2 linked regions of the Homo sapiens genome follow. The protein of the gene in region 2 interacts with the protein of the main gene of each other region in a pairwise test. Each region holds a gene or a part of one and is shown on either strand. Other genes may lie near its edges.

Region 1 (3,754 bases), on a different chromosome or scaffold from region 2:
ATATCAAATAATTATACTCACTACAAGATTGTATTCTTGAAATTCCATTTCCAGCTCCATGCAAGCTTGAGTCAAAACTCTGACTATTTCGCACGGTGACCGGAGAACTAATGTTGCTACTAATGGCAGTTGTACTTGGCATCCGGGCTAGGTTAGGCATACTTCTTCGGAGCTTATCTGGAAAAGAATTTTACTAAGTTAAAAATGACAGATGTTATGCAACCAAAGTACTAGCTTTCAAAAGCAAATAACAAAAGTCATATTGTGCTCAATAATAAATACAAATTATTACATGTTGATGATCAAGCTTTCTAACCTATTGTACAGGAAAACACCCTTCCCAACCAGAAGGGTTCCCACCAAATAAGCATGTGTGATGGTTAATATTGAGTGCCAACTTGATTGGATTGAAGGATGTAAAGCATTGCTCCTGGGTGTGTCTGTGAGGGTGTTGCCAAAGGAGATTAACATTTGAGTCAGTGGACTGGGAGGGGTAGACCCACCCTCCATCTGGATAGGCACCATCTAATCAGCTGCCAGCATGGCTAGGATAAAAGCGCAGAAGAATGCAGAAGGAGCAGACTTCACCTTTCTCCTGTGCTGGATGCTTCCTACCCTCGAGCATCAGACTCCAAGTTCTTCAGCTTGTGGACTCTTGGACTTACATCAGTGGTTTGCCAGGATCTCTCAGGCCTTTGGCCACAGACTGAAGGCTGCACTGGCGGCTTCCCTACTTTTGAGGATTTGGGACTCCGACTGTCTTCCTTGCTCCTCAGCTTGCAGACAGCCTATCATGGGACCTCACCTTGTGATCGTGTGAGTCAATACTCCTTAATCAATGCCCCTTCATATATACATTTATCCTGTTAGTTCTGTCCCTCTAGAGAACCCTAACTAATACAATGTGTTAAAGGAGAACGAAACTTCTATAAAAAGACTTAGGGACTAGCTAAGCAGTTAGCTATCTGTTCCTATTCAATAAGTGGCTAAAACTATATTTAAAAAGTTAGAAAATAATCTTATAGCCATTAAATTTACCAAAACAACCCTAGAAATTAAGTTACATGCTTCTTAAAAAAAAAAAAAAAAAAGAACCCTAGAAGAATCAAAACCAACATTTACTGAATCTTTTGCTACCATATCAAAATGGAACAAATTAATAAAATTCAAACTTCAGATGTCTTGAAATATCCACTCATCACATTAACATGACCACATTAATCTCTGGAAAGTTTTAACTTTCATGAGTACGCCACCAAATGTTTGCAGATAAAAAAGACCAAGAGAATGCTTCAATTTTTTTGCCTTGCTAAGTTCATCTTCTGCCACCAAGAGGCAGCAGAGAGTCACATACAGATCTCAATGTTGAGATGTGTGAAATAACACATGTGAAATAAGCCAGCCACAAGACCACAACTCTATGAGACACTTTTTCCTTGATCAATACACATCCCCCAAAAACTAAAGTACCTATGTCAGGTCATTTAAACTGAAAAAAAAAGCATATATACGAGTACTAAGCCATAACTAATTCAAGGACAAAACTAATTCAAGTACTCGATTCCACTCTTCCTAGAGCACAGCATGCGTCACCCACTTGCTGAAATCCCTCCAACTCCTCAATTCCTCCCCTGCTCCCTCTTCTGAAAGGCCAAGCTCCTGAGCACAGCCCAGATGAGGGCTTCAAGGCCCAGGCTCTTTATACTTCTCCAGCCTGGCCTCTCAGCCTGCTCCCCGACCACAGGGGTGAACTCTCTCATACCTGTGAGCAGGCTGGTCCCTCCATGTGGACACCCAACCTCACTTTGGAGAAGGAACAAATGAACAAGGGAACAAACATCTATTGTGTTTACACTAAATACCAGACACTCTGTGAGCTGTTGGGGATACCACAGTGTATTAGGCAGATACAGTCCAGAGTCTCATTGAGTTTATAGTCAAGATTTATGGTCTAGGTTTATAGTCTAGACCAGTGCTTCTCAATCCTTCCCCACCCATTGTTGATCCTAAAGAGAAAATCTAAAATAAATTTAATTAAACTTAAAATTAAATTTTTTCCCAAATAAAATAAATATTAAAGATTAACATTTTGATAGGGGTAAACCATGGAAGATCATAAATCATTGTAATATCTAAAATTTTTTTCACCCCTCCAACTTACAAGATATTTTTATCTTTATTGATATATACCGCAAAACACTAAAGTGCACATATCAGAGCATTCAATCTTGTGGTCATTTTCTTTCAAGCAAAACCAGAAAATAATGATATACTTGAATGCTAATCCAAAAGGCATTCAAGTCAAAATCAAACTCAGCTCTTCTTATTCCCCTTTCATACACTACTCCTTTGACATTACTAACACCTATTAAATGTTGCCATGTCCAGCAATTTTTGCTCCCTTGGGGTGGAAAAGGCAGAAGATTAAACAAGCACAATAAGTATACTTAGATAATATGTATAATAAGAGAGCATAAAAAATTGTAGAGAGTGCTATGGTAGAAAGCACAAAAGAATATTTTACTCATGTGGGTCTTACTAATACTTTAAGAATTGGCACAATTATCCCCACCATAGAGAAGCTTTTCTATGGACTTCCCAGCTGGAAGTATCTACCTCTCACACATTACTTTCTGTGTGTAGTTCTAGAGTAAGGATGCTCAAATATTGCCACTGACTGTTAGATTCCTTGGCAATTTTCCTCATTATCTTCTTGATGCCTATTTTTAACAATCATACGTCTCGTATTCCCAAATTCCTATTAAAGTTCCCAGCCTCACAGAGCAGGTACTTTATATATCAGCAAATATTATGTGTATGATTTGGCAGACAGTGTGTAGTAAGAAGGGAGGAATTAGAAGGATTCATCTCTACATAATCTTAGTGGCCATATCTAGATCTTTTGACTATTACAAAAACTGGTGTAAAAAAGACAGCCTCTATCAGTACTAGACTATTTTCACTATACATATTTCCAATACATATATTTTTAAGCAGCAGGGAGGCACAGGAACATAATTATATGCTATTGAGAAAATTAATTGAGCTTCTATATTTCTTTTTAAAATCTCTCTCCAACTATTTACTATAATAGTTTTCATACATATAGAAATGTTAAAAAATAGTATCATAAACACCTGTTTTTCCACCTGGCTATACTGGTTGTTTCCATTTTGCCATATTTAATTCATCTCCACATGTACTTTTGTTTGCTTTGCTAAACAAGATAAAACTTCAGACATCTTGACACTTTAAATGCATATTGATCTCCTGAGAAAATTCTATGGAATCACAATATTGTAATCACATGTAAACAAATTAACAATATCATATGATAATCTGCATACAAAATTTTTCAGACATCCCAAGAATATCTTTCACAAGCTTTTTCCTCTAAACCACGATCCAATCAAGGTCCATACGTTACATTTGGCTATGCCTCTAATCTGTGTTAGTCTTTAAAACCAATCTTTACTCATATTTAAGCAACAAGTCAGTTTCACAAAGCTTTAATCCTGAAATATGCTCTTAAAAATAAGGTCTTCCAAGTGTAAATATTTAGGACACTATTCCCCTTGGAACAAAGCTGTGATCTCCAACTTGTGTCAGACCATCTGGAAATGAGGTACATTTCCTGTCAAACAATGTGGAACGTTTTAATAACCACATATTCTTTAAAGTTCAGGGAACCAAAAGTAATGTTCTAGTTCTATCTTCACAAGAAATCAGCAGTTTAATCTTCAAGGGCTGAGAT
Region 2 (3,754 bases):
CTGTAATCCCAGCACTTTGGGAGGCCGAGGTGGGTGGATTACCTGAGGTCAGGACTTCAAGACCAGCCTGGCCAACCTGGTGAGACCCCGTGTCCACTAAAGATACAGAAAATTAGCCAGGCATGGTGGCGGGCGCCTGTAATCCCAGCTAGTCAGGAGGCTGAGGCAGGAGAATCTCTTGAACCTGGGAGGCAGAGGTTGCAGTGAGCCGAGGTCATGCCATTGCACTCGAGCCTGGGCGATAAGAGTGAAACTCTGCCTCATATATAAATAACCCACTCTGATTTCCTAGGTAATAAGAGTGAAACTCCGTCAAATACATAAATAAAATACCCACTCTGATTTCCTGGACAACCTGTCTTCCCATCTTTTTTTTATTTTTATTAAGATGGGATCTCACTATGTTGCCCCGGCTGGTTTCAAACTCCTGGGTTCAAATGATCCTCCCACTTTGGCTTCCCAGAGTGCTGGGATTATAGGTGTGAGCCACCACGCCCTGCCTCTATCATCTTTTGGTGACTATTGGGCTCTAGTTAGAAATGCATGAAACAAGGCTCAGCTTTAAGCAAGGTAGGTTGTTTCAGTATTTCCTAAAGAAAATCTGATTTGACAAAGGATAGTTTCCAAGTTATAGGTGAACATCTTACCTATTTAAGTAACCTAATGTTACTTAAATTTTTTTTCTCTTTCTTTTTTAAATAGAGACGAGGATTTACCATGTTGGCCAGGCTGGTCTCAAACTCCTGACCTCAGGTGATCCGCCCACCTCAGCCTCCCAGAGTGCTGAGATTACTGGCAGGAGCCACCTCACCCAACCAATTGTTACTTAAATAATTTTTAAATTACTCTGTACTCTTTTTTTCCTTAAGTTAAACATCAAACACAAACTCTTGGACAAGCATGAAACTAGCCAATGTTTGCTAGTACTTTGGCAGAGTATTCAGTTTGTGTAAGGTTAATTTTTTTCCCCCGGATTTGTTACGAGTGAGGGCTGCCTGCTATCAGAACATTCACATTCATTCAGGCCCCCAATCTATCTCAGGGTTGCCTACCAGAAATTATTTAATCCTATAACCAGTAGATTCTATAGTAGGCACAGGGTTAGTAGAAACTACTAGAAAAGAGCATTTGGGATGAGGATTGTGAAAACCTATGTATCCTAGTTTGTGTTGCTTTCAGAATGTTAATTTTGTATTCTCTTCTTCTGTAGGCTTTGACAAATTACAAAAGGCTCGTTTGGATCTGTGACACATCGTTTTGGGGGGAATGCTCCTCTCTTTGTGGGTTTTTCATCTTTTATTTTGGAACTATGAAGACTTAAAAGAGCTCAGACATTTTCTTTTTTTAACTGGTGAAGAGAAAAAGGCTGAAAAGAAGGAATATACCTTTTTTGTTCCACTTGTTTGCACTGTGTGCTGACTGAACATTAGTTGCACTAACTGCTGGTTTTTAAAAAATGTTTTCTGGGGAAAGGGGACAAGGAAGGAAAAGAAAGAAGAGAAGGGGAGAAACCCTAAAAAGAGAAGAATCTTAATGAACACACAAGCTTGTCAATGATTTCAAAATTCTCCAACAGCTGACTCTCGTGCATTTCAACTTCTCCCTGATTCCTCATCCGTTTTTTAAGCCTGAAGAGCTTATTACTTATTTGTGCGAAGTGCCTTATGCTATGAGACCATTCAGAATATCATCTTTTAGACACAGCCCGAGGAATCAACAATAGTAACTCTTTCTTTCCGTTTTTTTTTCTTTTTCTTTTAAAAAATGTCTTCTTATTTTGGTTTCAGGTTGAAGTCTCTTCCCTTTCTACCCAGTACTCGAGCCCAGGGCTAGAAGTTGAAACTCACTAGTAATGTTAAACACCATTTTTTTTTTCTTTTTGGGGAGGAGTTGATATGCAACTGCAGTTCATCCGCACTGTAAATACATGTATTTAAAAAAACAATCCCAAGTAAAAATTTCTTCTGGGCTGAGTAGATAAAAAACATCATCGCTCCCAAAGGAAAGAGCAGTCTATCATTGCAGGAGCCATATGACAAGCCTTTGTGCTCTATAGCAGACACTAAAGACTGGGTTACATATGCCTCCAGTAGTAGTATGGCACTTGATGTGTAGACATGTCAGAGCCTTGGCCCTCTTTCCTCTGTGGCAAAGCGTGTCCCATAGAAAATTGGGTGTGTATACTTGTATAACTTTGTAAATAAGTTTTTTTTCTGGGTTCATATATATATATATATATACATATATATATATTTTTTTTTGGATGAAGGTTGCTGGGATTAAGGGGATTAGAGTGATTATGGGAGCAGCTAAAGATGAGAGGGGCTCAGTTTTACGCAACACTAAATTCTAGAAAGTACTTTGGCCTCGTGCTGTAGAGAGCAGATTTCTATGGTACCCTGTGTTAGTAAAGGGGCCCAGAAATCTGGGATGTACTGTTTGCTGCCACACTGTCTCATCTAGTACCTTTGGAGTAGGTTTACCAGAGAGAGCAAGGAAGCTTCAAAACATTGATAATTCAACATTTATTTTGAGAAGCTCTGATTTTGCTTCTTCCCCCTTTCTAAAAGTTTGAGGAATATTTCAAGCTCTGCAACAGGGGGCAAAGATTAATCTACCTTGCAGTGTAGGAATTCTATTGAGTGGCAGTGTCATTGAGCAGTATATATATAAAGCACAGATTTGCATTTCAGAATATTAGCCAGTACCAGCTTTGGTAATGTTAGCAGTTCTGGAGCTTAATTTTCTGTGGATCATTTCCTGTAGTGTGTAAATGTGTTGCCCTCTGCCCGCTTTGATACATAAACTTTTGCAGGAATGGGCAACCTGAGAGCTGTTAACTTTCATGCTACAGAAAGCTGCTTGCCATTCTCTTGCATTGTGACAAGAATTGTTACCTGTCATTTTGCACTGTAAATTGCTGGCAGATGCTTTACAGTCAATAGTGTTGCTTTAAATTGTGCCCCTCCCAACATGCTTGATGTTTGGCCTGATCTCCAGGCAAAAGGAGTGAGATGAATCAAAACCAGTGAACTTTTTTTTTTAATGTTTTTAATTCCCTTTTAACCCAGTGTACTAGGTCAATCAGGAGGCATCTGGAAAGGGGGGGAAAAAAGCAAAAAACAAAATTAAAAAAAATTGATTTCCATATTTTATTTTTCAAAACCCTAAAATATTACAAAATAAGTCCCGCATATACTTTAATGTTTTAACTCTTTTGGACAAAGGAATCAATTACTTGAAGTTGCTTTTTTGACTCTGCCTACTTCTGAGCAAACTATTTGCGACTCACCCACAATTCCTTGGAGATCAAAATCCTACAGATGCCTCCTGATGGGACATAGCCCTAACTCCTTAACAACTGTAGCAAGAACTGCACGGTACAAACCCAAAAAAGAACAAGCTCATCTATTTGGAACCCAAGCCTCATATTTTCTGTCCAGTCAATGTTGGTTACTAAATAGAAAACCTAATTAAGGAAGTAACTTTTTTCCAGGGAGGGGTGGGAGAGGGAATTTAAAAGGTGTCAACTTTTGACCAAAAAAATTGTGCCCTTGTACCGATGCAGCTCTCTTTCTCCCCCACCTCTTGCGAGATAAGAGGGATCATTCATGTAGAAGAAAAGAGTATAAATGCAATTCTGTATCTCGCTAGAGAACGTGTGGGTGACTAAACAAAAAGTGCAGTCTCCTTCACCAACTTTAGACTGCGTGGTGCCACATGCCTGTGGGTCCCTCTTAAAGCACAGACTTAA

Evidence for each region. The genes of interacting proteins can lie anywhere in the genome.
Region 1: the proteins of DDX6 (region 2) and SLAIN1 interact in binary tests that used the Homo sapiens proteins (3 or more experiments, as listed by UniProt).

The regions. Positions count from the first base shown.
Region 1 is NC_000013.11:77,749,626-77,753,379, reverse strand, and holds part of SLAIN1 (SLAIN motif-containing protein 1), read right to left. Parts: intron 178-3,754; coding exon 22-177; intron 1-21. UniProt on the Homo sapiens protein: Microtubule plus-end tracking protein that might be involved in the regulation of cytoplasmic microtubule dynamics, microtubule organization and microtubule elongation.
Region 2 is NC_000011.10:118,749,554-118,753,307, reverse strand, and holds part of DDX6 (probable ATP-dependent RNA helicase DDX6), read left to right. Parts: intron 1-1,210; 3' UTR 1,211-3,754.